Homo sapiens: one gene and its partners. The protein of the gene in region 3 interacts with the protein of the main gene of each other region in a biochemical or structural test. Each region holds a gene or a part of one and is shown on either strand. Other genes may lie near its edges.

Evidence for each region.
Region 1: the proteins of PRKCD (region 3) and TOP2A form a complex in vitro, tested with the Homo sapiens proteins (one study listed by IntAct).
Region 2: of the proteins of PRKCD (region 3) and PTOV1, one has a biochemical effect on the other in vitro, tested with the Homo sapiens proteins (one study listed by BioGRID).
Region 4: the proteins of PRKCD (region 3) and MUC1 form a complex in vitro, tested with the Homo sapiens proteins (one study listed by BioGRID).

Annotation. Positions count from the first base shown.
Region 1 is NC_000017.11:40,407,271-40,415,217, forward strand, and holds part of TOP2A (DNA topoisomerase 2-alpha), read right to left. Parts: intron 6,356-7,947; coding exon 6,210-6,355; intron 6,023-6,209; coding exon 5,925-6,022; intron 5,702-5,924; coding exon 5,489-5,701; intron 4,549-5,488; coding exon 4,375-4,548; intron 4,186-4,374; coding exon 4,084-4,185; intron 3,977-4,083; coding exon 3,839-3,976; intron 1,361-3,838; coding exon 1,222-1,360; intron 855-1,221; coding exon 697-854; intron 405-696; coding exon 279-404; intron 1-278. UniProt on the Homo sapiens protein: Key decatenating enzyme that alters DNA topology by binding to two double-stranded DNA molecules, generating a double-stranded break in one of the strands, passing the intact strand through the broken strand, and religating the broken strand.
Region 2 is NC_000019.10:49,853,271-49,861,217, forward strand, and holds the end of PTOV1 (prostate tumor-overexpressed gene 1 protein), read left to right. Parts: intron 1-1,135; coding exon 1,136-1,273; intron 1,274-1,320; exon of another isoform or gene 1,321-1,381; coding exon 1,382-1,464; intron 1,465-1,560; coding exon 1,561-1,618; intron 1,619-1,699; coding exon 1,700-1,807; intron 1,808-3,194; exon of another isoform or gene 3,195-3,704; coding exon 3,705-3,860; intron 3,861-4,422; coding exon 4,423-4,512; intron 4,513-4,633; coding exon 4,634-4,707; intron 4,708-4,786; coding exon 4,787-4,844; intron 4,845-5,076; exon of another isoform or gene 5,077-5,157; intron 5,158-5,278; coding exon 5,279-5,383; intron 5,384-5,572; exon of another isoform or gene 5,573-5,818; coding exon of another isoform or gene 5,819-5,833; exon of another isoform or gene 5,834-5,906; intron 5,907-5,935; exon of another isoform or gene 5,936-6,019; intron 6,020-6,715; coding exon 6,716-6,913; intron 6,914-6,997; coding exon 6,998-7,009; coding exon of another isoform or gene 7,010-7,049; 3' UTR 7,050-7,472; downstream 7,473-7,947. UniProt on the Homo sapiens protein: May activate transcription. Required for nuclear translocation of FLOT1. Promotes cell proliferation.
Region 3 is NC_000003.12:53,156,796-53,164,839, reverse strand, and holds the start of PRKCD (protein kinase C delta type), read right to left. Parts: upstream 3,632-8,044; 5' UTR 3,412-3,631; intron 3,334-3,411; exon of another isoform or gene 3,265-3,333; intron 2,359-3,264; exon of another isoform or gene 1-2,358.
Region 4 is NC_000001.11:155,185,245-155,190,388, forward strand, and holds the end of MUC1 (mucin-1 isoform 10 precursor), read right to left. Parts: coding exon of another isoform or gene 5,136-5,144; intron 4,959-5,135; coding exon of another isoform or gene 3,996-4,958; intron 3,691-3,995; coding exon of another isoform or gene 3,373-3,690; coding exon 2,919-3,372; intron 2,820-2,918; coding exon 2,764-2,819; intron 2,615-2,763; coding exon 2,478-2,614; intron 2,333-2,477; coding exon 2,211-2,332; intron 2,131-2,210; coding exon 1,981-2,130; intron 966-1,980; coding exon 891-965; 3' UTR 580-890; downstream 1-579. UniProt on the Homo sapiens protein: The alpha subunit has cell adhesive properties. Can act both as an adhesion and an anti-adhesion protein. May provide a protective layer on epithelial cells against bacterial and enzyme attack.

The DNA of each region.
Region 1 (7,947 bases), on a different chromosome or scaffold from region 3:
ACAAAGAATTGTTTAGAAATAAAAAAATATTATGACTGACCTACTGGCAATTTGTCAAATTTTCTATGGGAATCAAAAAAGGTCTGTTCAAATCCAGACTCACTTAACCTGTATTTGCAACATACATATGATATAAGCATATCTGATTAGATGTTGATTAGAGATGATGAATAAAGCTCCTATTTAACTAATTTATTTTCATGGCAAAAAACAATGAAATTAAATTAAGACATGCTTAATTTAGTTGAACAATCTAAAAATTTAATAACAAATCTGACCTGATCTGTCATAATCATTATCTTCCCATAACGAAGCGTCTTCAATGAATCTTCATCTTCATAGTTTTTCTTGTACTGAAGACCCACAATCTTGATGATATTGTTAATCTCAGCATTTTCCATGATCTGAAATGGACATATACCAAAAAAAGCATCGTTTATAAATTTGAAAAGAACAAAGAAATTTAACAGTATATGTTGCTTGGATTTTCTTGAGCTCCAGTATTTTGAGCTATTAGCTTATAATTTACTACATCAGAAAGGTCTGTTAAAATAGGCTACAATGTACCTAATTTCTCAAAATAAGCACAAATTGTCTAAAATATATTTTAAAATGCCTAATGAGGGAATTAAATATAAGCATAAAGTCTTGTATTATAAATTAGATTTAGATTCTGAAGATCGTCTTATATTCTACCTGCTTATGAGAAGCTTCTCGAACATTGAGTATTTTTCCTCTAAGAGGGAAAACCCCATATTTGTCTCTCCCAACCACACCAAGGCCTGAAACAGCCAAAGTTTTGGCTGAATCTCCCTCAGTCAGGATAAGCGTACACTCAGTGGAGTTTCGGCCCCCTAAAATAAAAATATACATATTAATATTAGCACATTTAGTTCAACCTCAAATATACTAACTTGAACATGCTGTTTATAGCCTTGTGATAAAACACAATTTACTATATAATGAGCAAAATTATTTGTTAGGTAATAGATCATAATATAAACATTCTTGTTTTATACTCCAAAATAATCACCTCAATATTATTTATAACATGGAAATGACCTAAATCTTCCATAATAGGAAACGGGCCGATTTTTAACAAGTTATTCTGTTGAATATAGTTATTCTGTCAAGGGAAAAATAAATATCCGTGGTATGCCATTAATGAATAAAATAACAACTATAAGACTTAAAAGTTTGGAAACATTATTAAATATATACCTGCATCATTGGCATCATCGAGTTTGGGAATTCCCTTGATTCTATTATGTTTTACAGCTGAACACTTCTTGTTTAACTGGACTTGGGCCTTAAACTTCACCCAGTTTAGTATGCTTTCTACAATACCACAGCCAATGGCCTGAAAACGAGAAGATTCATATTAGGGATCATATTAGGGAAGAAGGGATCTATCAGAAATCTAGAATACAAATGAGCCTTAATACAAATAAAAATGATTCAAAAATTAAAAAGATGTAGAACAATAATTTCTGGATAGAGGGTGGCACATCTTCCCATGTCAGGTTATCACCACTGAGGGAGCTGCTCCTTTTGGTTCATTCGTTCAATAAATATTTACTATATAATTATATTGTGCTAGCACTGAGCTACTTGTTGGAGATATAGTGGTTAAAACAAATTAGACCAGGCACGGTGGCTCACGCCTATAATCCCAGCACTTTAGGAGGCCAAGGTGGGCAGAACACCTGAGGTCAGGAGTTTGAGACCGGCCTGGCCAACATGGCGAAACCCCGGCTCTACTAAAAATACAAAAATTAGCTGGCGTGGTGGTGGGCACCTGTAATTCCAGCTACTCGGGAGGCTGAGGCAGGAGAATCGCTTGAACCCAGGAGGTAGAGGTTGCAGCGAGCCAAGATCGCACCATTGCACTCCAGCCTGGGTGACAAAAGTGAAACTCCGTCTCAAAAAAAAAAAAAAAAAAAAAAAAAAGGGTAGCCAGGCATGGTGGTGGTGAAATGGCTGTAATCCTAGCTGCTTGGGAGGCTGAGGCAGGAGAATTGCTTTAACCTGGGAGGCGCGGGTTGCAGTGAACTGAGATCAAGCCACGGCACTCCAGCCTGGGAAACAGTGAGAAGCTGTCTCCAAAAAAAAAAATTAAAAATAAATAAATAAAATTAGACACAAATAAAACAAATTGAGACACTTGTCCTCATCAAGTTTAAGACACAACATAGAAGACAGACATAGCTGGGTGCAGTGGCTTACGCCTGTAATCACAGCACTTTAGGAGGCCGAGGATGGTGGATCAAGTGAGGCCAGGAGTTCAAGACCAGCCTGGCCAACATGGTAAAACCCCATCTCTATTAAAAATACAAAAATTAGCTGGATGTGATGGTGCATGTCTGTAATCCCCGCTACTCAGGAGGCTGGAGAATCCCAGCTACTCAGGAGGCAAGGAGAATCGCTTGAACCTGGGAGGCAGAGATTGCAATGAGCCAGGATTACGTCACTGCACTGTAGCCTGGGCAACACAGCAAGACTCTGTCTCAAAAAAAAAAAAAAAAAAGACTGGGCACAGTGGCTCATGGCTGTAATCCCAACACTTTGGAAGGCCGAGATGGGTGGATCATTTGAGGTCAGGAGTTTGAGACCAGCCTGACCAACATGGTGAAACCCTGTCTCTACTGAAAATACAACAACAAAAAAATTAGCCAGGCATGGTGATGCATGCCTGTAATCTCAGCTACTCGGGAGGCTGAGGCAAGAGAATCACTGAAACCTAGGAGGCGGAGGTTGCAGTGAGCCGAGATCGTGCCACTGCATTCCAGCCTGGGCGACAGAGCGAGACTCTGCCTAAAAAAAAAGACAGAAATAAAATAAGTTACAGTGTTATAAGTGTTATGGATAAGCAAAAAGTTTGCTAATAAGGTATGTTCAATATTATATTGGAACCAACTTAGGTGGGGGGAAGGGTAGAAAGTAAAGGCTTTCCTGAGGAAAGGACAAGACCTAAAGTAGCCAGGTGAAAAGGATGTATTTCATGCAGAGGGATTAGCATGTGAATAAACTCTGAGGAGGGGAAGAGCACTGTGCTTTTCAGTAATTTAAAAGCAACAGGACAATATACGAAAAACTGGCACTGAGATGAGTTGGAGAAGTAGGTGTAATTAGATTACAGCAGATCTTTCTTGTTGGCCAAATTATGGAATTTGGACTTTCCCTGAGTGGAAGTCATTGAAAGATTTCAAATGAGAGTGAAGATAAAAATGGGTGTTTTAACACAAAAGTCACTCAAAAGCATTCCAAGGAAAGGACTTAACCAGTATGAAGGTTAAGAACCTATTGTAGTAAACCAAAAAAGAGATAATGGTGAGAAGCTACTGCAGCATCCAAGAGATGATTCTTATTGACCGGATTAGAGAGGAGGGGAAATAAAGGAAGGCTCCCAGCTTTCTTGTTTATACAACCTAGAGGTTGGTTGGGGCTTTTTACTAAGATAGGAAGTTGTTTTTTTGTTGGAGAGTGGGGGGCTGCTTGTATGGGCAAATCAGTGAGTATGGAGGTAACAAATTCAATTTTGGATGTGTTGACTGAAAGCAAGTCTTAGGCATTTAAGTGAGGGTGTTTGTTAAACAGCTAGATTAATTCAAAAGTGATCTAAGCTTAATGGTAAAATGTAATTGGGAAATACTGAAATATAGACGGTCATTAAGTCTTTGGTAAATCAGTTAAAGTAAAGCCCTTTTTTACTTCCTTTTCAGATTGGGAAGACTTGGAGAAGCTCACTATGAGAAGAATCATTGTTTCTGCAGAGCTAAGAAGTGCAATGGAAAATAAAGTCAGGTGTTTCTATTTTTATTTTCCTCTAAGTACTCACAGCTTTGATAAATTTTTCACTCAATTGGCATGTTGATCCAAAGCTCTTGGGTTGTAAAGTCATGTTTTCTTTTGTCTGAGAGTCAAAGGTTGGGTTTTCAATTAAGGCATTTACAAAAATCCACATGTGATTTTTCACCTGCAATAGAAGTTGATATTAAGCCACTAAAAATGTACTCATGCTTTATTTATAGCCTTTCTCTTCTTCCTTGACTTTAGAAAAAGAAAACTGCCAAAAGCACATACCTGATGTGCTTTTACTGCAACACCACCCTTGTTCTTCTTCTTCACAACATCAACAAGTTTAGTCACAATCTGATCAGCTACATAATCAACATGTCTGCCACCCTAATAAGGAAAAATACCAAACTGTAAAACTCAGTATCCTCAAAATTATAATAATCAAACATTAAAAACTAATTTAACCTCCTTTATACTAAGCTAGCCCAATATTCAAGTCCACTTTATATATTAAAAACAATAAGAACACATATATGTAAAGATAAATCATGATTAATAATTTAAGAATAAAATTACCTTGGATGTAGCAATGCTGTTGACAAAGCTAATTTGCTGAAAGCCTTTTTCACTCATAGTTAAACACACTTCCCACCTGTGGTTTACTTGTTCATGTATTACTTTCAAGGAGTTACCAGTTTCATCCAACTTGTCCTTCAAATACATGTCCACATAACTACGAAATCCTTTTACCTGTACAGGAATTAAAGGTAACAGTATTAAGAAAGTTATTAAAAAATAGGTTCAATGATAGACTATGAGGACTTTCCAAAACCAATGCAATGATGTTCACTGATAGGCATAAGGGAATGGTCATTAAAGGACACAGGCCGAGGTGGGTGGATCACTTGAGCCCAGGAGTTCAAGACCACCCTGGGCAACATAGTGAGATCCCCACCTCTATTAAAAAGAAAAAAAAAAATTAGCTGGGCATGGTGGTGCTGCCTGCATTTCCAGCTACTCCAGAAGCTGAGGTGGGATGATCGCTTGAGCCTGGGAGGTCCAGGCTGTAGTGAGCCGTGATTGCATCACTGTACTCCAGCCTGGGTGACACAGCGAGGTTATCAAGAAAAGAAAGAAAAAGGAAAATAAAAAAAGGACATGAAATATTTATTTTAGGTGTTTCTTTGAGAAAGAAATTCCTTCGGTAAGTTTAAAATGAGCTGATTAAAAAATGTGGCATACCATTCTCTTTTCAAGAACATATGTGAGAAGTGGTAAGAAAATACATATGGTTGGGCCAGGTGCAGTGGCTCATGCCTGTAATCCCAGCACTTTGGGAGGCCAAGACGGGTGGATCATGAGGTCTGGTGTTCGAGACCAGCCTGGCCAACATAGTGAAACCTGTCTCTACTAAAAATACAAAAAATTAGCCAGGTGTGGTGGCAGGCACCTGTAATCCCAGCTACTTGGGAGGCTGAGGCAGGAGAATTGCGTGAACCTGGGAGGTGGAGGTTGCGGTGAGCCGAGATCGTGCCACTGCACTCCAGCCCGGGCAACAGTGTGAGACTCTGTCTCAAACAAACAAACAAACAAACAAACAAAAACATATGGGAGGGGAAAAAATTCAATTTTGCACTTGACAATGATTACAAAATCCCTTATTATCCTTAACATCCAGGAAAATACTCACTGGCAGTTTATTTCCATTAAGAAAGACTTTGACATCTTTGGTGGATCCAGCAATATCATATGCTCTTCTGACCATTAGTGCAACAATATCTTTGTCCAGGCTTTGCATTTTAAACTTAGACAAATCAGGCTGAAAGGTGATACATGTATAATCTTCTCCATTGAAGGGCTTGAGTTCCATCTCACCAGCTCTTCCCATATTATCCATCCATGTCTATGGAAGTAAAGAATAGGAAACATGAAAAATTCAAGTCATCTCACAAACTGGAAGTAAATAACATAAATTTATGAGTCCTAATAACCTAATATATATGCTTATAATTTTCCATACTTCAATAGCTTATAAATTATGTTAAATTAAACCAATCATTAATGCCATTATAAATGGCTATACTACTACCATTTATCATTAAGGTACAAGACACTTATTTACTTGCCTGTTTGAACATTTTCTTGTATTCTCTACTGGCTGTTTCCACAGTAAATTTGGTACTGAATATGTTACACAATTTGGCTCCATAGCCATTTCGACCACCTGGGCAAATAAATATGAAACACTATTTTATTGTTACTATCTCATTGACAGCTTTATTTCTTAATCACTGGCAGAGCTATTCAATTATAGAGATTTATTTCCATATCTTTAACCCTCATGCCACAGACAGTCATTTAAATATATATATTTTTAGCAACAAATATGTTATTTCCCCTCAATACTCTACCTGTCACTTTCTTTTCATCATCATCATAGTTACTAGAAGTTAGGAGCTGTCCAAATATGAGAGCTGGGACATACATCTTTTCAACTTTGTGTTCAACAACAGGAATACCTTTTCCATTATTCCATATACTAATTAAATTGTTTTCCCTAAGAAAAAAAGATTGAAAATTGTATTTTACAACACATTAAACGAATGCTTAACATTTAAAAATATTTAAATACTATTATTTCTAAAATATGTATATTCAGGCTGGGCGCGGTGGCCTGTGCCTGTAATCCCAGCACTTTGGGAGGCTGAGGAGGGCAGATCACTTGAGGCCAGGAGTTCTGGCCAACATGTTGAAACCGTCTCTACTAAAAATAAAAAAAATTAGCCAGGCATGGTAGCGCATGCCTGTGATTCCAGCTACTTGGGAGGCTGAAGCAGGAGAACTGCTCAAAGTGTTGGGGTTATAGATGTGAGCCACCATACCCAGCCCTCAATTTTTTTGGCACTTTTCATATATACCTTCTGAAATTCAGCAGGAACATTTCCCACCATGCTTAGTTCCTGACATTCCTGAAATAGGAGTCAAGAGGAAAAAAAAACCTTTTCCAACACCTGAATAGACACTGATAATGTTGAAAAAATACAAAATTTTAAAATGTTAGGATAAACAGAGGGAAATGATTTATGCCCAATGGAAAGAAAAGGACAATCTGGAAACATTATTATACACCACTCCCACTCCTTTTTTGAGACAGCATCTCGCTCTGTCACCCAGGCTGCAGTGTAATGGCAGGATCACAGCTTACTGCAGTCTTGACCTCCTGGGCTCAAGCAATCCTCCCACTTCAGCCTCCTGAATAGCTGGGACTACAGGTGTCCATCACCACACCTGGCTAATTTTTAAATTTTTTGTAGAGATGAGGGTCTCACTATATGGCCCAGGCTGGTCTCAAACTACTCCTGGGCTCAACTGATCCTCCCACCTTGGCCTCCCAAAGTGCTGGGATTACAGGAGTGAGTCATCATGCCTATTATACCCCTTTCAAGAGGATCATCTATACATCTCGTTCCCACTCAACAAAGTACATAAAAACAGGCTGGGCGCAGTGGCTCACGCCTGTAATCCCAGCAATCCCAGCACTTTGGGAGGCTAAGGCAGGCAGATCACTTGAGGTCAGGAGTTCGAGACCAGCCTGACCAACATGCAGAAACCCCATCTCTACTAAAAAAAATACAAAATTAGCCAGGTGTGGTGGTGTGCGCCTGTAATCCCAGCTACTCTGGAGGCTGAGGCAGGAGAATTGCTTGAACCCAGGAGGTGGATGTTGCGGTGAGCCGAGATCATGCCACTGCACTCCAGACTGGGCAATAAGAGCAAAACTCCATCAAAAAAAAAAAAAAAAAAAAGGAAAACCAATATCAATCATAAACTGCCTTGCTCTCAAATAAAATGCTGAAAACTTATTTCAGTTATTTTAAGTTAATTCTTGGATGGTACTATATTTTAGTTAATAACTCGATATACATTATGGTTCTTGTTCTACATAGTACTTATTATCTATAAAAAAAACTAATTAAAATTAGCTCAACTTTTTTTTTTTTTTTGAGACAGAGTCTTGCTGTGTCACCCAGGCTGGAGTGCAGTGGTGCAATCTCGGCTCACTGCAAGCTCCACCTCCCGGGTTCATGCCATTCTCCTGCCTCAGCCTCTCGAGTAGCTGGGACTACAGGCGCCCACCACTACACCCGG
Region 2 (7,947 bases), on a different chromosome or scaffold from region 3:
CCTATTACGGGGAAACTCTCGTGGGTTTCCTGCTGCCAGGCTGTTTGCGGAGCTTTCCCTTGTTTGCTTTGAGATGTTTTTGGTTTTAAAAAACAATAAGTGAGGTCAGGCTTGGTGGCCCTCGTCTGTAATCCCAGCACTTTGGGAGGCCGAGGCGGGCGGATCACTTGAGGTCAGGAGTTCGAGACCAGTCTGGCCAACATGGTGAAACCCCATCTCTACTAAAAAAAAAAAAAAAAAAAAAATTAGCCGGGCATGATGGCGCGGCTTGCAGTGAGCGAGGTTGCAGTGAGCTGAGATCGCACCACTGCACTCCAGTCTGGGAAATGAGTGAAACTCTGTCTCAAAAAAAAAATAGTAATAAAAATAGTGGGGAGAGTGCCTGTGAGTAGCATTTGTGGCGTTGCTTGGCTTTATTGCTAGAACTTTCTCTTGGTGTTCTACATGTTTTGGTCTGTGAGACCCCTCTGGGGGTGGTGTCCCAGCTGTCTTCCAAATGTTTCCCCCTTTTCCTCGCTGTCTTTCTCCTGGATGGTTTAGTCCCCTCTGTGTTTCTTGTCATCTCCTTCCTGCCTCCCCCCGGGGTCAGACTTATAAGGCCAGAGAGGTGGGCACTGGCCTGAGCCAGAGGAAGGAATTGAACTTTGGGATGACAGGGAGCTTTAGGAGAGTTTCAGCCTGGGAAAGACAGGGCAAGCTGGTGTGTGGGACAGACACAGCGCAAGCCGGCTTGTGCCTGTGGAGGCTGCAAGGAAGCCCTGGGCCCAGCCTGGGGCACGGGGAAAGCCCCCTACAGCTGGCTTCTAACTTGGGTCTCAAGAATCGATCAGGCGCACAGCTGGGGCAAAGGCTGGAGGTGGGGCTGGCTGAAGGCTTCAGGACTCTGCTGGGCCAGTGTCAAGGTGACAGCAGGCTCTGGGAAGGAAGGGTCCTGAGGGTGGGCAGCGGGAAAGGACATGAGGACCAGCGTGTGGGGGTCCTGAGGGGTGAGCAGAGGGTTTGGACATGGCCCCGTGGGCTTCCAGCAGGGGATTTGGGGCTGAATATTGGGACGTCCCCTCTGGGGTGTGTGGGGACTGCCTGTCCTTGCAGGCCCCGGCCTCAGTTTTCCCACCTATCCCCCACTCCATTGCAGGAAGGTGCTCGGGTCTTCGGGGCACTGGGTCCCATCGGTCCCTCCTCACCTGGGCTCACCCTCGGGGGTCTGGCCGTGAGCGAGCACCGGCTCAGCAACAAGCTGCTGGCTTGGAGCGGCGTCCTCGAGTGGCAGGAGGTGAGTCTCTGTGGGGCTGCGGCTGGCCTCCAGGGTCTTGTCTTGTCCCTGCGGGGACAGGCCAGGGCATCTAGGCTGTGCACAGTGACGCCCCTCCTGCCCCCACAGAAGCGCAGACCCTACTCTGACTCCACTGCAAAGCTGAAGCGGACCCTGCCCTGCCAAGCCTACGTGAACCAAGGCGAGAACCTGTGAGTGCCGGGGCGTGGCAGCCAGGGCGGTGGCAGGGGCAGTGGCTGTGGCCGTGGGGATCAGGGCAGCCCTTTCTGACCAGCTCCTTCCCATAGGGAGACCGACCAGTGGCCGCAGAAGCTGATCATGCAGCTGATCCCTCAGCAGCTGCTGGTGAGACCCGCCCCTCCCACCCCATCCACTCTGAGCACCCCCATGCCTGGCTGACCCAGCTGTCTGTCCTGTCGCCCCCAGACCACCCTGGGCCCCCTGTTCCGGAACTCCCAGTTGGCACAGTTCCACTTCACCAACAGAGACTGCGACTCGCTCAAGGGGCTCTGCCGCATCATGGGCAACGGCTTCGTGAGTGGGGCGGGCTCCCTTGTAGCACTGTGGTGACAAGTACAGCTGGAGGCAGCGCTCTGCTCACACAGTCCAGGCGGGGGTCGGGGGGTCTCCCCTGGGGCCGAGGGTAGCCCTCGTGGCCTCTCGGACCCCATCTGGAAATGACTGACTCCAGGCACCCTCCGTAGAGCACAGGGTGAAGGAACTCAGCCTGAGAGGCCTCCAGTTTCTGCATCTGTGCCCAGCTTCGAGGTGGCCCTGGGGGCGTGAGTGCAGGGAGGGACTGGGGCCAGCCCTGTTGGGGCCCAGGAGCCTGTCGGGGACACATAGCGTATGGCAGGGACCTGGTAAATGGGTGTGCTAGGCACAAGAGCCAGCCAGGAGGGAGTGGCACGTTGGGGCTTGGTATTCTGGTCTGTAAAATGGGCTAACCTCCCCGAGTGGCCTGAGCTGGCCGTGAGGGAGCAGAGCTGAGGGTGCTGAAGCAGGCGCGGTGAGTAGGTCCTCAGGCCTGGCTCCAAGGGGACCCAGGTATCCAGCCAGTGGCTGTGCAGGGACTGAGTGGGGCAGGCGCGGCCATGACCTGGACCCGGGGGGCTGCCAAGGGATCTGAGAGCGGCTTCCGCAGCACTCCAGGGTTGGGCTGGTTGAGGGGTAGAGATGACATTTTCTGAGGTAGGGAGGACAGGGGAGCCGTGCTTCCTAGGGCCACCGGGAGGCTGGAGGGAGGGAATTTGTGTAAAGCGCTTGAGATGGTGACTTTAGTACCTAGTGAGTGCTGGGTGAACCCAGCTGGTGAGGCTGTTCAGGTGACTGAGATTCTGGCGCAGGGCAGGTCAGAAAGGGGGCTTGGGCTGTGAAAGATGGCAGGTGCTGGAGAGGAGGCAGGGGTGGGGTGGGAGCGAGTTGTCTGCCCAGAGGACCTGGCTCTGGGACATTCCCAGTCCCTGTTCCCTGTTGGGACAGTCTGCCTCTACCCGTCCCAGCTGCCGTTGAGCGCCCTGGGTTCCGCTAGGGCCTCCCTTCTCCCTCAGGAGACCAGGGGCAGACCAGGGCTTGTGCCTGGCATGAGGTCTCTTAAGTGACCCGTTCCCCCTTCACCCAGCACCGTTTGTTGAGGGCCTGCCATATCTGGGCCCCGAGTACCCAGTCTGTAGGGAAAGTGGACATCCATACTCACCCCCCAGGCATGGCCCTGGGAGGCTGACTGTGCATGGCTCCAGGGAGGCCAGGGACAGGGCCCTGAGCGGGTGATCCCTGGGCTGGACACCAAGGTTGAGAAGTTAGGCCGGCAGCGTGGAGGGGACAGCACTGTGGGGGTGGCCCGGTGTGGGGAGGGGACATGGGGTTTTGGGACGGTCACACCACTTCATCTAGACACCACAGCCAGGCACATCTGTCAGGCTTAGTTCTCCCATGCGCCATCCTCAAGAGGCACCAGCACTTTATCTGTTGAGCCTTTATGTGGCACCAACTGTGTGCACTATTACCCGGTTTTACAGATGATGGAGGCCCAGAAGCAGGAGGTGGCTGGTGTTAGGTCACACAGCTAGGAGGCAGCAGAACGGTGGGGCGCTGCCTGTGCTCTTAACCCCCAGGCCAAGTCACCCCATCAGGCAGTCAGGAGGGCTGGCGGCAGGGGGTGATGTGGGTGGGAGGTAGTGCCTTCTTGGCATTCTCACCGCAGCCTGGGTGCCGGGTGCCACTCTGACCTCAGCCATGGCAGGGTCGGGGGATGCCGATGGGCGCTGCACGGGCTCTCAGAGGCCCCTCACCTATGGCCATGGCCTTGACTGTGGGGGCCTCTGTCCACCGATGATCTCCCTTCATCCCCTACAGGTGGGGCGGTCCAGGGTGGTGGGGGCACAGTGGCCCCGGGCAGTGACCACAGGGTCCTGACCCGCGGCCCCCGCAGGCGGGCTGCATGCTGTTCCCCCACATCTCCCCCTGTGAGGTGCGCGTGCTCATGCTCCTGTACTCGTCCAAGAAGAAGATCTTCATGGGCCTCATCCCCTACGACCAGAGCGGCTTCGTCAGTGCCATCCGGCAGGTCATCACCACCCGCAAGCAGGTGTGCCAGCCAAGCACAGCCCCTCTGGGGACAGAGGGGGATTAGACCCCACTGCCCTGGTTGGGCAGCCAGACTTGGTGTGGGCGGAGTGTGATGCGATGGCTGGAGCAAGGAGCTGCAGGGGAGCCCGGAGGATGCCGGGCGGGTTCCCACCAGGGCTCCATGGAAAAGCGGCCACTGGGCGGCTCTGCAGGGCTGGAGGGTGGGTCTTGGCGCGGCGGCAGGGAAGCCAGCGGAGCGGGGAGCTGGGCAGGGGTTGGGATCGTCCTGCGGCTGGAAGGCCCTGCCTGGTAACCACGTGTCCTGGTCATGCCTTGCCAGTTGAGGCAGACTCTGCAGGTCCTGTGCACCAGGTGAGGGCCGGGACCTGTCTCAGGCCACTGGGGAGCCATGGGGGGCTGTGAGCAGATGAGGGGCAGGGCCTGTTCCCCTGGGACTAGAGAATGGACCCAGCTGGGGCTAACAGGCCAAGGCTCGGAGGGAGGGATGGCAGGCCCCAGGACAGACAGACAGGTTTCCCAGGAGCCTGGGCCCCTCTTCCCACCCCGTTCCCTTCCAACAGGCAGTGGGACCTGGTGGTGTCAACTCAGGCCCAGTCCAGATCGTCAACAACAAGTTTCTGGCATGGAGTGGTGTCATGGAGTGGCAGGAGGTGAGCACTCGGCAGCCCAGGGACTTGGGACCCCCAGATCCTCACGGACTGTGGCTGGGAGGGGACACTGGCATTGGGGGTCTCCAGCCCTGAGGGCTCCTCTTTGCCTCTCCCCCAAAAGCCCAGGCCTGAGCCCAACAGTCGGTCCAAGAGGTGGCTGCCATCCCACGTCTACGTGAACCAGGGGGAGATCCTGTGAGTGCTGGGCTGGGGGGTGGAGGCAGCATCCAGGGGAGCTGGGGCTTCCTGACCCTCGTCCCTTTGTGCCCCACAGGAGGACCGAGCAGTGGCCAAGGAAGCTGTACATGCAGCTCATCCCGCAGCAGCTGCTGGTGAGGGGCTGGGGCCGGGTGCTGGAGCCTGCACGCAGTAGCTCTTCCAGAGGGCGGGGCTGGGGGCAAGAGCGCCTCCCCAGGTGGCCTGAGCTGGCTGTGAGGGAGCGGAGCTGAGGGTGCTGAAGCAGGTGTGGTGGGTAGCTCCTCAGGCTTGGCTTCAAGGGGTCCCAGGCAGCCAGCTGGTGGCTGTGCAGGGACTGAGCGGGGCAGGGGCAGCCACGACCTGCACCTGGGGGGCTGCCAAGGGATCTGAGAGCGGCTTCCACAGCACTCCAGGGTTGGGCTGGTTGAGCGGTGGAGATGACGTTTCCTGAGGTAGGGAGGACAGGGGAGTCTCAGTTTGGTCCTGGGCCCGGGGGACTCAGCGGGCTGGGAGCCGGGAGGCCGTGGTGGGAGAAGCCAGAGCTGGGGGTCCCCTCGCTTCCCCGCAGACCACCCTAGTGCCGCTGTTCCGGAACTCGCGCCTGGTCCAGTTCCACTTCACCAAGGACCTGGAGACACTGAAGAGCCTGTGCCGGATCATGGACAATGGCTTCGTGAGTGGTGCCAGCAGACGCAGGGGAGGGGCCGGCCAGGGCAGAGCGAGCCCGGACCGCTCACGGGGGCGGACATGGGAGAGGAACAGAGCACCATGTCCCAGACCAGCTGGGGAGAGAGGGTGGCTAGTGTGGGCGTGACTTCTGGGGGCTCTGTGCTGTCCCCACGGCACTGGATGGGGCACTGACCCTGGTTCTGCGGGGGCCTGCTCCTCCTCTGCCACATCAGGGCTGACTCAGCACCAACTCCGCGCTCTCCACTCCTCAGGGACAGGCGCCCTTGTCACTCCTGGTTTCCCGGGAGCTTGTGCCACATCCCAAAGGCCCATTGCTGGGCAGGGAGGGCTGTCTGCCCCCAGCAAGGTCCCAGAATATTTGGCGATTGTCTTATCTGGGGGAGGCTCAGCTGACTCCTCTTCTCTCTCTCGGGCTCAGTTTCTCCATCTGTGAGGTGGAGAAGGTTGGACTTTGGTGTTTCTGAGCCCTCCCCCCGATGTCCACCTTCCAGCTGGGCCATACTTGGGTAATATCCCGAAACTACCTTAAAATTACCTTCGACTCAGTCTGAGTAAACTGTCCACGAAGCTGTTCGTGGGTGGGGGGGGCCTGGGTGTAGGTGCTTTTACATGAAAGCAATTTCAAGCATTCCCTCAGGGGCCGGGTGCGGTGGCTCACGCCTGCAATCCCAGCACTTTGGGAGGCCGAGGCGGGTGGATCACCTGAGGTCAGGAGTTTGAGACCAGCCTGGCCAACATGGTGAAACCCCGTCTCTACTAAAAATACAAAAATTAGCCAGGCATGATGGCCACTCAGGAGGCTGAGTCACAAGAATGGCTTGAACCCGGGAGGCAGAGGTTGCAGTGAGCTGAGATCATGCCATTGTACTCCAGCCTGGGCGACAAGAGCGAAACTCAGTCTCAAAAAAAAAAAAAAAGTTTCCTCAAGGAAACCCAGAAAGGCTCCATGTACCTCAGCCCTTGCTTGTGCTGGGCCGGCCGCTGCAGATCCCTCGGGCTCCTGAGTTGAAGCCATGGCCGGTTGGCTCAGGTGGCTGTGGTGAGGTGGCCCCAGACACAGCCTGGCCTGCCCAGGAGCTCTGAAATGCAGGTTCTTGGGCCCTTCCCGACAGAGCCTGTTGGCCTTTGGCCCACCCATTGCTCTTGGCCACCGTGTCATCCCAATAAGGGGGCCCACCTCCAGGGTGGGTGGGGGGTGTGAGGACAGAGCAGTTAGGCTGTGCCTGGCTCATGGAGCCCACGGCATGATGCCGTGGTTGGAGGGATGCTGGTCCCTGTGGTGCTGTCTGGTGACACCACGCCCTGTGCCTGCCAGGCCGGCTGCGTGCACTTTTCCTACAAAGCATCGTGTGAGATCCGCGTGCTTATGCTCCTGTACTCTTCAGAGAAGAAAATCTTCATTGGCCTCATCCCCCATGACCAGGGCAACTTTGTCAACGGCATCCGGCGTGTCATTGCCAACCAGCAGCAGGTCCTGCAGCGGAACCTGGAGCAGGAGCAACAGCAACGAGGGGTGAGGTGGCCGGCCTCCAGGGCTGCTCAGTCTCCCTCCACCCCCGCTGCCTGCTCACCACTGGCCTCTGATTTCTCGCCGTAGATGGGGGGGTAGTGGTTACCCCGGGCTGGGCCCCTCCAGGAGTCACAGATGAGGCCCCCGCAGAGACTGGTGAGTGGTGACCCTGTCATGTACAGGAGGGACCCTGGGGCATGTGGGGGGGGTGGGGTTGGGAAAGAAGCAGGGCGACCTTGGCCTTGGGGAGAGCAGAGCAGAGGGAGAGGCAGCAGTCCCAGCGGTCCTAGGCTGTCGGGAAACTGCAGCCCAGCCTCAGGGCCATGGGAGGTGGTATCCAGGCCTGGGTGGGGCCAGGCCTCTGCTCACAGGGATGTGGGGTCAGTGCTTGGGAGCCTGTGGCCAGCAGCCCCCACTGCACCCCTGCCCCCAGGTGACACGCTTCTGAGCAGGGGCCCCTGGGGACTTCAACTGCCCAGCAACATGGAGGATGGTGTCCTGAGGCCTCCAAGGACGGTCCCCACCCCTCTACGTTTCCCCAATAAAGCCTTTTAAAAACCTGCCTGCCTTCTCTGCTCACTGCCCGATGCCTTGCAGCCCCCTAGCTCTAAGGTGGCCCAGCAGGCTGGACAGCCCGGGAACTCACTGGGTCTGGCTCTCGGCTGTCCACACCCTCTTCCCCCCCGAATCTCCAGACCCGCAGGCCTTGGGTTCAAGTTCAGTGTCACAGAACCTGAGCTGGATTTTGTCCTCAGGGGTCACACCTGGCCTTGAGCCAGCCCCTCGGTTGAGGCTCGTGGGCTCACCAGCTGGCTCTCGGGGGGCCACACAGCGCCCTCCCTGTGTGTTCCCCGGCTAATGTCTAAAGTGCTCATGCCAGGTCCCAGCTGGACTCCCCTCGGTAGGGCCCCACCTTTTGTTACCTGAAAATGTCCTTAAAGCCTCCTCCATGTAAGAAACTGGCAGGCCTGGAGCCCCTCCCCCGTGGGGACCACCCTCCTTCCAGCAAAATGCCGGCCAAGCTCAAGGAGAAACAG
Region 3 (8,044 bases):
TAACACAGCAAAAACCTGTTCCTGACCCTCCTGTCTGTGGGAGGTTGCCTTGCAGGTTTAGGAGTCCTAGGGTGCAACAAAGTACCACCACTTTATGTCCTGGTGCAATTTCCCTGAGCCTCAGTTTTTTTAATGGGGAAACTACTAGCCTCTTCTCCCCAGGTGGTTCTGAGGTTCCAATGATGTGGCGTGCCAGCTCCTGTGCTGGACTCATGTTGAGAATGCCAAATGAATAGTGACTTTTTTTTTTTTTTAATGTGGCAGGGTCTCACTCTATCGCCCAGGCTGGAGTGCAATGGCACGATCTTGGCTCACTGCAACCTCTGCCTCCTGGTCTCAAGTGATTCTCGTGCCTCAGCCTCCTGAGCAGCTGAGATTACAGGTGCGCGCCACCACACCCAGCTAATTTTTGTAGTTTTGGTACAGACAGGGTTTCACCATGTTGGCCAGGCTGGTCTCAAATTCCTGACCAAGTGATCCACCTGCCTCGGCTTCCCAAAATGCTGGGATTACAGGTGTGAGCCACCGTGCCCAGACTGAAGAGTGACATTTTTTAATCTCTTGTGCCTTACAGTTCAGGTGATTCTCACATTACTATTGTGCCCATTACACAGCTGAAAAAACTGAGGCCTGGAGATATCCTGGGAGGAAGAAATGGCAAAGGTAGCAAGGTACTCTGTGTCTCCTGGCTGAAAGGCCTAAGCATTTTCTCTGAAGGCCAGCTCAAGCCTCTAAGAAAGATTCTGCTCCCCAGATGTGAACCCCTCCCCCAGCTGGAGACCCCCATCACCATTCCCTGGGGGCAGAGGCATCCTTGGCTTTATCTTTTTGTCTGTACTTTAAATTATTTCTAATTTTAATCTAAACTGTGCCAGCTAAATGGTGTCAGCGCCCTGCAGTCACAGCTCTGAATCATCCCCCACCCCTGTCTCCCCCATCGCTACTACTGACACTAAGGTCTGGTGAGGGAGGGGCTGTCATGCAGGCTGAACAGGGCTGGGTACTGGGGGCTCTGTCTGGGCATCCCCCCTCCCTCAAGCTGCTTGGTCAAGGAGATGGGAAGGGGCAACAGACAGGCAGGAAATTGGGTTGGATACTGTCTGGGCTTTCTTTAGCCCCAGCTCCCAGGAGAATGGGAACCGTATAGCTGGGGGTGGTGACAACAAAAGACTTCACATGTGCTGTGTTCTCACTATGGGCCAAGATTGTGTTAAAGGACCTTTAACACAGGAACTTTTGTCCTCACTCTCTCCATTCTGCAGATAAGGACACTCAGCCTTGAGAGGCCTAGCTTGGGTCTCTTGCTCTTAACAGGCACAAGCAAGTATTGGAGCCCAAATAATTCTTGGGTACAGAGCCCGAGGTCTTGGTCACAACACTACAAACCCCAAGACTTGCCCTCTAGCCCTCTCCATGTGCACACCCACATCCTCATGGTCTCCCACACACTCACACACACACCCCCACACTGGGCTCTCACCTTCCCTCCCAGCACTGTCACCACACACCTTGTCACACCCCCTCCTGCCGCTAACACCCACGCCCAGGCACTCTCGGTTCCCCACAATCACAGTCACTCCCCAAGCATACACCGGCAGTTTCATAGACTGTGTCCCACCAGTCACACACTCCTACCGTGGCCACACACTCCCAGGCTTACCCCAGCACTGTCCCATCGCATAGCCCTCACACCACCCATCAGCCAGGTACAGCTGCCCAGACACCACCACACCTCTCTGTCACACACACACGCACACACACAACCACACATATCACACATGCACCATACAGCCTCCCTCTGCTGGCCTGCTCACCAAGCCCCAGCTCACTCCACAGCAGGAACGAGGAAACCCCAGGGATCAGTCCCCTCCCTTAGTGACCAGGTGGGCCTGGTCACAGAAACTCAGTGGCAGAGGGAGAGCCACACGTGAGTACACACACATACACACACTTATACAGATACACTCACACATGAGACTGGTGGGTAGGCACCCAACACCAGGGGCTTCCACAATTAACAGATCTAACGTACTCATGGCCAGTTGGTCACCATGATATACCCAGTGTGCAACACCGAAACCTCCAGACACACAGGGACACACACACTAGCAGGCAAGGACACACACACACACACACACACACACGAGTCTGGTGACAACAAACACACCAAGAATGGTACACACAGTTGCAAAAGACACACACAGAGCCTCAGGACACAAACAGACATACACACATACACACAAGCAAGTCACACATGCGAAAAAGGACACACATGCACAGGCAAGTCCCACAGTGACAGACAGCACAGAAGCTGACACAGACACACAACATACCCACACACCCAGATACCAGTGACTTAGCACAAGGAGACAGCTTCCACGCATACAGGGTAGGCGTCAGAGAAGGGGACCCCCCGCCCACTCACAGCAGATCCTTCTGACCAGGTTTAAGGCGGGGCTCGGTGGGGCTCTCCCCTGCCCCAAGAGAGAGGGAACTGGGGAAGTGGGAGCAGTTCCGATGGTGCTCTCCTTCTGCCGCTCCACCACCAGCCAGGAGGACCCCCCCCCCCGACCTCCTCCCCTCATCTGGTGGAGCCCCCACAACGGGAGTGGCATCTGGGTTGGGGGCGAGTACAGACCGTATCGGGCAGGGGCCACCCTGGGAGGGGTCTCAGAGGGGCGGAGGGGTGGGGTGGGAAGGGGGATGGTGGAGACTGGAGCCACGCCCAGCCCAGAGACGGATGAAGGGACCGAGAAAGACTCTTGAGACCGAAAGAAGAGACAGCGAGGAGGAGGCGCCGCGCGGGTCGGGCCTCCAGGGACCCAGGGGCGGGAGGCGAGGCCCGGCGGGCGGCCTGGCCTGGGCCCCGCGGTAGAGCGGAGAGGCGGCTGGACTGGCAGGGGGCGGCGAGCGTGGGCCGGGGGCGCGGCTCCGGGAGGACGGGATCGAGGGGGCGGCGGGCGGGGGTAGGGGTGTGGGTGGGGGTGGGGCGATGGAGCACGCGGAGGGCAAGGGACGGACGGATCGGGTGGCGAGGGACAGAAGGATCGGGTCTCGGAGAGGCGCGCAGGGGGAGAACACAGAGTGGGTGGCGACAGACGGACGGACACAGGGCCCGGGAGAGAGTCGGGAGGGACGGACGGGCCCCTCGGAGGAGCGGGAGACACACGGGCGGGTGGAGGGGCCGGGAGCGGGCAGACAGAAGGACCTCAGCCCCCACTGTCTAGCGGAGGGACACACAGACGGACAGGGGGACGGAGTCACCGGCAGGTCTCGGCGCGGCGGGACTTTCGCTGACCGCGGCTCAGTTTCTCAGTTTCGGAAACGGGAACTGGGGCGGGAAGGGGGAAGGAAGGGCGCCGCGCCCTCGGGGTAGCCCCGATCCCGCGCCCGGACCCGGCCCTCACTTACCTCCCGTTGCAGGGGCAGGCGCCAAGGGTCGCGGCGGCAGCGGCGGGGGCGCCGCTCCCCGGCGCGCGCGGACGGGGTTCGGCGCGGCGCTGACTGGGATGGGCCAAGCGGCCAGTGAGGTGTGGCCCGGGCCTCCGCGCGGCGGGCGGGCGCCGGGGGTCGCTCGGGAGATGTGGGCTACAGCCGCCTCGGGCTCCGGCGCCGCGGCACACGGAAGTGCGAGGGGGCGGGGCCGAGCGACCTCACCCAGGTGCCGCCGGCCCCGCCCCCGCCAGGCCCCGCCCCCGCCAGGCCTCGCCCTGCCAGGCCTCGCCCCGCCAGCTGCAATCGGGGACAGCGTCCCTCCGCCTCTGCCTGCGCGGGACACCGAGTCTCCCGGTCCCTCTGCCCTGCCTGGCCCTCTTCGCATCCTCCCGCCATTAGCGCGCAGCCAGCCCTCAGAAGGGGCCCATTTTACAGAGGAGGACGCTGAGGCCCGGTGGGGAGGCTCCCTCCGCCCGCTGGGGCCTGGGAGGGGCCGGCGGGGGTTCCCCCGCTCCCCACACCCACGCCCGGGACTCCCCACTGGCCAGCTGGCCCGCCTCTCCTGGCCCCACTCCTGCTCTTCCTGTTGGCTGGAGCTCGGACGCGGCCGGGCGCGGTGCCCGCCGCCAAGCCCGCTGTCCCGGCTCTGCCCCAAAGACTGAGCTGGTTAGACTCCAGGGTCGGAGGTTCTCGCTGGTCGGGCGCTGCACTGCTCCTCAGGCGGTTCTGGGAACTGCCCCTACTCGGACTGGCAGTTGCCCCTACCCCGATTGGCAGTCTTCTGCTTTCCTGCCCCCACCTTTGAGACCTCTCTATTGCTCCTGGCAGGCGCCTGAGCCTCCTTTCCAGACATGGAACTTGGTTGTCAGCCATAACTCCTTCATTCATTCATTCACTCATTCATCTATTCACCGAGTGTCCCCTAGGCTCAAAGTCTAGGGACCAGTTGGGGTTCTAGGGAGTCCATTCCCCTGTCCCCAGAGCTCAGAAAGCCAAGACATTAGCCTTATACTCATCCAAAGAAATGTCACTTCCCAGGAGACAAAAAAGAGGGTTCCAGGTCCTGGGGAACCACCTAGAAGGGATAGAGAAAGTCTAGACAGCTCTTCCCAGCTGAGACACAAGGGATGGAAGTGGGGGACAATCCCTGAGGTGGCCTGAGCTGAGAAAGGGGCTTGTGACAGAGACAGGCCATTGGACTTTGGTCTTCTCACAGAGCAATGAGAAGGTGGTGAAAGCTATTACAACCAGGCAGGATGACAGGCTCAAGGGGGCTCCTGCGGGATAGATGGGGCAGAGGGACAGCAGGGCAGAGGAGAGGCTGGATGGGGGACAGAAGGGCTGCCACGTTGTTCAGGTGGGAGGACCCTGGTTGAGATTGCGGAAGATGGATGGGGAGAAAAGGCCAGACCAGGTGGGTTCAAGGACTATCCTTTGGGAAAGACTTTCTCTTCACACCCAGGCCTTGAGCATGCTGTTCTCTGGGCCTGAATGCCATTTCCCACCCCACCCCCAAACCTCTACCTGCCCTGGTTGTGTCCATTCAAATGTCCCTCCTCCCTGATGCCCAGTTGTAATGCACGGCACTTCCCTGAGTGAAGGACCATATTCATTAGCATGTTCTGTGTCCTGATCCCATCCCACCCCACCCATCATGCCCCATGGCTTCCCTGGGGTTGGACTGGAGGAAAGGGTAAACAAGGTGAGCCTCAAGTGACCTTTGCCCACTTGGGATCGGGTTTCCTTCTGGCTCCTCCTTCAGGTCCACAGTAAGCCAACCCAGTCTCTCCCTCAACATAAACAATAGGCCCACCCTGTGCCAGGGACTGCAGCCAGAGGGAGGACTGACCCTTGAGGAGCTCCAGGTCCAGCCACCAGACCTTTGTTCCCACTCCGTGTGGTTCACCATGGAAGAAGGAAATGAATAATCATGGCTATCGCTGATAGGGGCTACCCAGCACCAGGCTGTGTGCTGGGTGCTGGATGTGGGCAGTCTGAACAGTTCTCAAGAGGTGAGGGCTGCTGTTAGTGCCAGTTTTGGTGATGAGCAAACTGAGGCTCAGAGAAAGGAGAAGCGACTTGCCCCAGAGTACACAGCTAGTCAGTGGCAGACGCAGATTCAGACCGAGGTCTGTCTGGCTCCAAAGCCCATAGTTTACATCAGGGATCTCAATTTCAGCACCACTGACCTTTGGGACAGATGATTCTTTGCTGTGGGGGCTGCCCTGTGCACTGTAAGGATGTTGAGCAGCATCCCTGGCCTCTGCCTAGTGGATGCCAATAGTACCTCCCTGCTTTAACTTGTGACAGACAAAAATGTCTCCAAACATTGCCAAATGTCTGCTGCAGGGCAAAATTACCCCTTGTTGAGAATCACTGCTTTGACATATACTGGTGTTACAGGAACAAGATTTACATTAGACAACAGGAAGCACTTTCCTGATCCTCAGGATATGCAGACTTGTGAGCTCAGGGGCTGCAAGCATACACTGGCTTCAGCCAATCTTTCTCCTCTAGAGAAAGGGGAAGTGCGATGTACTCAGAGAGGGTCAGAGGGGCTAAGGCTGTGCTAGCTATGCTGTGGCGAGGGCAGAGAAGGGATGAAGGTGGGCTTCCCTCCAGGCCTTAGGTCCAAGGGTTCCAGGGAGAATAGGTTTGCATGAGGTCCAGAGAATCCAGGCCAAGCTTGACTAGAACCACCCTGCATCTTGGAGCTGCTTCTGGGTGCCACACTGGTGGGCCAGGGCAGGGTCCAGATGAGCTGGTATCTGTGTCCCCATAATCTGCCTTGCATCAACAAGAAGGGCCTGCTGAAGCCTGAGAGCAAACCTTGGCTGTGTCACATGCCAACTGTATGACCCTGAGTAGGTGACCATGCCTCTCCCAGCTTCAGAGTTCTCACCTATGAAAAGGGCTGATGACAGACTCATGTCAGGAGTTGAATGAGGTGGTAAGAGTTAAATGAGATGATATATACAGAGCCTCGGCCAGGCTAGACACATTGCCCAGGGTTACAGCCTGGTCATGTGCCAAGTCACAGGCTGTCAGCCTTGAAAGAGGCTTCAATGGCCTCTCCTGACATGGGGCGTAAATCCCTGAGCAGGGCTAGACTCATAGCAGCTGCCTAGAGGTGATACTTTCCTCCTCCTCCAGGTTTGCAGCCAAGGAGATGGGCTAGGGTGGTGCCAGGCAGCTTCCAGACTCCCACCCACAGCATCCACCCAGGGCTGTTCCTTCTGTGGGCCTCCTGGAGGATTTATCCAGAGGAGAAGCAACTTGACCCCTGCCACCTCTGCCTCCTCCAAAGGCCATCAACCCTGGGAGGCCTCCAGACTCCTCCACTCCTGAAGTCCAAGACTCGGCCAAGCAACCTGGAAAAGGCCTCCCTCTGTCCCTGAGGCCCACACAGCTGAAGGCAAATGGGGTCCCTCACTTGATCCCTGCCAAGAGTTGGTCCTTGTCCTGGCATTTCTGCTTTTTGCACCTTCTCTCTGTTTCTGTCTCTCTGTGTCACCATCCTTGTCCCTGAAGCTTTGGTTGCCACGGCAATCCCCATCACACCCAGAGCACTGGCCTGGCCAAGAGAGAGTGGGCTTGTGTTTCTGGAGCAGGAGACACAGTCAACAGCGACAGTGCACCTGGGCAATTGCTGGGGGCAGCAGAGCCTGGGAGGTTCCCACTGGGGACAGTGTAGTAGGAAGGACACTTGGGACATGCCCATGCCTCAGGCCACCAAGACTGTCATCGACAGGAGTGTCAGCCTCAGGTACTAGGTTAAGGACAAGCAAGGACAGGCTGAGGGGGACAGTGGCCTTGTGGGTAGTGCTGCACAGCAGGGAAGTGCCAGCCCAGGGGCTGGTTCGCATCCTGGCTCTGCCCTGCACTGCAACTTAAATGTGCCTCAGCTTCCTCATCTGTGGAGTGGTGTTTGGTTAAGATCGACCTCCTGAGGCTGAGAGGATGGAAGAGTTCAAGTTCATCCCATGTTGGTGTTACCTGCCAGGCAGAGAGTTGGTGAGGCTGGGCTAATTGCCTCCATGTTCCTTCCTCAACACATTTGTGTTTGGGTGAAACCTGAGACATACTTGGGGGTAGACAAGGGGAAGGTGTGTCCTGGGAGTGCAGAACACAGGGCTTTCCTGTGGCTCTCCCAGGGGTGTGTACCCTGGACTGTCCCTTCTCTGCACTGACCATGGCACAGCCCCTGCCAGCCTGAGTCCCCTTCCCTGGCTCCTCTGCCCCTGCCCCCAAACATGTGTGTAGGTGGGGAGAAGGGGCACTGGTGTTGGGACAGTCATCAGCAAGAGCTATCCCCTCGCACGGAGTCCAGGGGACCTCCCAGCTCTCCTCCACCGCCCCCATCCCCGGCACCCATTTAGCTCTAATCTACGGGGTCCCTACTGGGAGGCTCATGGGGCTTAGCAGGGCAGGGAGGGCTATAAGCCTCACCTGCCTTTCCTTTCGCTCCCTGGCCTGAGGGTGCCTCAGCTCCCCGCTCCCACCTCTCAGCCCCTCATCCCCCACATCCTCAGAGGACAGCTCACCAAACCCAGCTTGGCCCATGGGAAACAGTGTAGGGGGTGGCCCTGAGCTGAAAGGCGGCTGCTCG
Region 4 (5,144 bases), on a different chromosome or scaffold from region 3:
CAGGCAACGTGCCTGGGCCCAAAGGGGTCAGGGAACCAGAACCACTTCCCCATTCCCAGGGTGTTGTGGAGCCCACCCCAGGGGCAGCAGGCTGGTGGGGCAGCCGGGGTCAGGGAGGGGGCTGGGCCTGGTGCCAGCGCCCGGATCTGACCCAGCCTCTGCTTATCTCAACCCTGTTGACTCTGGGCTGTTATCACTGCCCAAGGATTTACTTCACACCCGGACAGCTAAGAATAGAGCCACCTGGGGGGCACCATGCCAGGGGGCAAGGAGGGCGTGGGCCAGGCGAGGAGAGGGGAGAGCCACTGGCACACAGAGCTCAGTCACGGAGCCCAGTCACGCTAGCCCTCCAAAGCCCGCCTGGGTTTCGTTTCCTCCTTCCTCTTGTGCTGCCAGGGTTAGCCAGAGGTGGCTCCTCAGGCCACCCCTACTCCCCAATGTCACCTCCTCCTCACATCTCCTGCTTCTCAAACAAACTCGCTCCTTACTGCCTCCTGGCCTCCCTGTCTCCTCCCCCAGCCCCCTCACACACATTCTGACCGCCCTGCTGCCCACGGGTCACAGATGAAAGATCAGAAGTTGGCGCAGTGGGAGACCACGTTTTATTCAGTCCAGTTCAGGATCCCCGCTATCTCAGGGCTCTCTGGGCCAGTCCTCCTGGGAGCCCCCACCACAACACTTCCCAGGCATGAGCCCTCAGGGGCCCACATGAGCTTCCACACACTGAGAAGTGTCCGAGAAATTGGTGGGGCCTCTGAAGGAGGCTGTGAGCAGCCCACCTGAACTCCCAGCTCACCAGCCCAAACAGGGTGCAGGGGCTCTGGCCCTGAAGAACCTGAGTGGAGTGGAATGGCACTGGCTGGCCACTCAGCTCAGCGGGCGACGTGCCCCTACAAGTTGGCAGAAGTGGCTGCCACTGCTGGGTTTGTGTAAGAGAGGCTGCTGCCACCATTACCTGCAGAAACCTGGGTGGAAGGAAAAGAGATCCAGGGTGAGGAGCAAAAGGTACCTCCTAGAGCCCCTGGATGCCACCCCAGGCTGGGGTAATCAGTCCAGAGTCCTGGCCAGCTCTCAAAGGGTTAATTCAGAGAGAGCACCTGCCACCCCACCAGCCAGGTGACTGTAAACAGGGCTGCCCTCCTCCCTCTGCTCTCCTTCACTCCCTCTTCTTGGCTCTAATCAGCCCCCTTGTCCCTCCATTCTCTGCTGTTCCAGCCTAAGGAGGTGTGTGTGTGTGTGTGTGTGTGTTTTGGGGGGCGGGGTGTATCTGTGTCTTTGTAAAGCCGAGAGAGGGAGGTCTCCAGGAGGAGGAAAATAGGAGCAAGAAAACTAAACTCTCTCCTCCCCCACCTGGAGTGGTTTTCCAGCCTCAGGTGGCTGCAGTAATTATTTACTAGGTCCCATAGAGAAAGACCAGGAGAGGAAGGAGGGAGCGTTCCTTGCTTCCTTGAAGCTCCCAAGAACCCCACTGGCACCCACGCTCACCTGGTCTGCTGACACTTCTTCTTCTACCTGGGAAACCTCCCCCTATGCCAGCCTTTCTCGGTCTACCCTCCATTCCTAGGAGATGATTAGGGGCACAGAGGCTCACCCCTGGGACTCCTCGGGAAGGGCTCCCCTGGGCATAGTGCTCCACCCATTTTGCCTCTGGGTGCAAAAAAGCAAAACAAAACAAAACTGCCACGGTGGCACCAGTTCAGCCAGCGCCAGCCAGCATGAATGTGGACGGCCAATGATCTTTTAGGAATTCTGGCAGTGGGGCCACTCCCTCTTGAGGGCCCCTTTCTTCCATAGTCTCCTCCCAGGCCTGTCCCCCAAAACTCCTCTGACCTCTGCCCCTCATCCTTGCCAGGCCCTCCCCTGCTCACTTCACGCCACTTCTCACCTCTTCCAAGCTCTTTGGGTTTTCCAAGTACCCCCTTCAGAATCCTTGCCCAGCCAAACCCTCTGCTTCCCCTGGCCTGTGGGGCCCAATCTCACCTTCTCATAGGGGCTACGATCGGTACTGCTAGGGGGCACATAGCGCCCATGGGTGTGGTAGGTGGGGTACTCGCTCATAGGATGGTAGGTATCCCGGGCTGGAAAGATGTCCAGCTGCCCGTAGTTCTTTCGGCGGCACTGACAGACAGCCTGGGGAGATAGGAGGTTATGGCAGGCCATGGAGTGCCTTCTACCGGGGGGCTCTGATCAGGGCCAGGGACTGCACTCACCAAGGCAATGAGATAGACAATGGCCAGCGCAACCAGAACACAGACCAGCACCAGCAGCGCGATGCCCCAGCCTGGCACCCCAGCCCCAGACTGGGCAGAGAAAGGAAATGGCACATCACTCACTAAAAGGAAAAGCAGTGGTCAGGGCAGTCTCCCAGAGGAGGCGCCCCTCCCGCTGCCAGCACTAAGGAAAGAGCGGGGACCCAGACACTGGAAGGAGAGGGGCCCCGGCATGGTGCTGGGCTGCAGCCAGGGAAGTAGCCTCACCGCTGACGTCTGAGATCGTCAGGTTATATCGAGAGGCTGCTTCCGTTTTATACTGATTGAACTGTGTCTCCACGTCGTGGACATTGATGGTACCTTCTCGGAAGGCCAGAGTCAATTGTACCACCACAGATCCTGGCCTGGTCACAGGGAAATGGGCACTTCAGCCACGGGTCCCAGCTCTGGCTCAGCACTCTTCCCCCAACCTTAAGTGCACCAGTCCCTCCCTACGGTCATGACCACCACCCACCCTCCAACCACCACACTGGGTCCACACCCAGAACTGTACCTGAACTTAATATTGGAGAGGCCCAGAAAACCCCCTTGTTTATAAATCTGCAAAAACTGGGGTGAGAGGGAAAGGACTCAGGCTTGATGCAAAGGGTGTGGACAGTTCTGATGGCTGCTTCAGGGGAGCATGGGGAAGGAAAGGCCGATACTCACCATTTCAGAAATGTCTCTCTGCAGCTCTTGGTAGTAGTCGGTGCTGGGATCTTCCAGAGAGGAATTAAACTGGAGGTTTGAAATGTGAAAAGACAGGAAAAAGAAAGAGACCCCAGTAGACAACTGGGGAGAAGTGCTGTGATTGGAGGAGGTGAGAGGAGGTACCGTGCTATGGTGAGTGCTACTGGCATCAGTCTTGGTGCTATGGCTGGCAAGGGTGGTAGGAGTATCAGAGTGGTGGCTGGGAATTGAGAATGGAGTGCTCTTGCTGGCTGGGGTTGTGGTAGCCCTGGCAGAGGTGCCGTTGTGCACCAGAGTAGAAGCTGAGCCTGATGCAGAGCCTGAGGCCGAGGTGACATTGTGGACTGGAGGGGCGGTGGAGCCCAAGGCGGGCCTGTTGTCCGGGGCCGAGGTGACACCATGGGCTGGGGGGGCGGTGGAGCCCGGGGCCGGCCTGGTGTCCGGGGCCGAGGTGACACCGTGGGCTGGGGGGGCGGTGGAGCCCGGGGCCGGGGTGGAGCCCGGGGCCCGCCTGGTGTCCGGGGCCGAGGTGACACCGTGGGCTGGGGGTGCGGTGGAGCCCGGGGCCGGCCTGGTGTCCGGGGCCGAGGTGACACCGTGGGCTGGGGGGGCGGTGGAGCCCGGGGCCGGCCTGGTGTCCGGGGCCGAGGTGACACCGTGGGCTGGGGGGGCGGTGGAGCCCGGTGCCGGCCTGGTGTCCGGGGCCGAGGTGACACCGTGGACTGGGGGGGCGGTGGAGCCCGGGGCCGGCCTGGTGTCCGGGGCCGAGGTGACACCGTGGGCTGGGGGGGCGGTGGAGCCCGGGGGCCGGCCTGGTGTCCGGTGCCGAGGTGACACCGTGGGCTGGGGGGGCGGTGGAGCCCGGAGCCGGTCTGTTGTCCGGGGCCGAGGTGACACCGTGTGCTGGAGTGTCGGTGGAGCCCGAGGCCGGCCTGGTGTCCGGGGCCGAGGTGACACTGTGAGCTGGGCTGCGGGCGCGGTGGAGCCCGGGGCCGGCCTGCTCTCTGTTTTAAATATACACCGTGGGCTGCGGGCGCGGTGGAGCCCGGGGACGGCCTGGTGTCCGGGGCCGAGGTGACACCGTGGGCTGGGGGGGCGGTGGAGCCCGGGGCCGGCCTGGTGTCCGGGGCCGAGGTGACACCGTGGGCTGGGGGGGCGGTGGAGCCCGGGGCCGGCCTGGTGTCCGGGGCCGAGGTGACACCGTGGGCTGGGGGGGCGGTGGAGCCCGGGGCCGGCCTGGTGTCCGGGGCCGAGGTGACACCGTGGGCTGGGGGGGCGGTGGAGCCCGGGGCCGGCCTGGTGTCCGGGGCCGAGGTGACACCGTGGGCTGGGGGGGCGGTGGAGCCCGGGGCCGGCCTGCTCTCCGGGGCCGAGGTGACACCGTGGGCTGCTCTCGCGGTGGAGCCCGGGGCCGGCCTGCTCTCCGGGGCCGAGGTGACACCGTGGGCTGGGGGGGCGGTGGAGCCCGGGGCCGGCCTGGTGTCCGGGGCCGAGGTGACACCGTGGGCTGGGGGGGCGGTGGAGCCCGGGGCCGGCCTGGTGTCCGGGGCCGAGGTGACACCGTGGGCTGGGGGGGCGGTGGAGCCCGGGGCCGGCCTGGTGTCCGGGGCCGAGGTGACACCGTGGGCTTGGGGGGCGGTGGAGCCCGGGGCCGGCCTGGTGTCCGGGGCCGAGGTGACACCGTGGGCTGCGGGCGCGGTGTAGCCCGGGGCGGGCCTTGTGTCCGGGGCCGAGGTGACACCGTGGGCTGGGGGGGCGGTGGAGCCCGGGGCGGGACTGGTGTCCGGGGCCGAGGTGACACCGTGGGTTGGGGGGGCGGTGGAGCCCGGGGCCGGCCTGGTGTCCGGGGCCGAGGTGACACCGTGGGCTGGGGGGGCGGTGGAGCCCGGGGCCGGCCTGCTCTCCGGGGCCGAGGTGACACCGTGGGCTGCGGGCGCGGTGGAGCCCGGGGCCGGCCTGCTCTCCGGGGCCGAGGTGACACCGTGGGCTGCGGGCGCGGTGGAGCCCGGGGCCGGCCTGGTGTCCGGGGCCGAGGTGACACCGTGGGCTGGGGGCGCGGTGGAGCCCGGGCCAGAACTGCTTTCCGGGGCCGTGGTGACTCCGTGGGCTGCGGGCGCGGTGGAGCCCGGGGCCGGCCTGCTCTCTGGGGCCGAGGTGACACCGTGGGCTGCGGGCGCGGTGGAGCCCGGGGCGGAACTCTCCGGG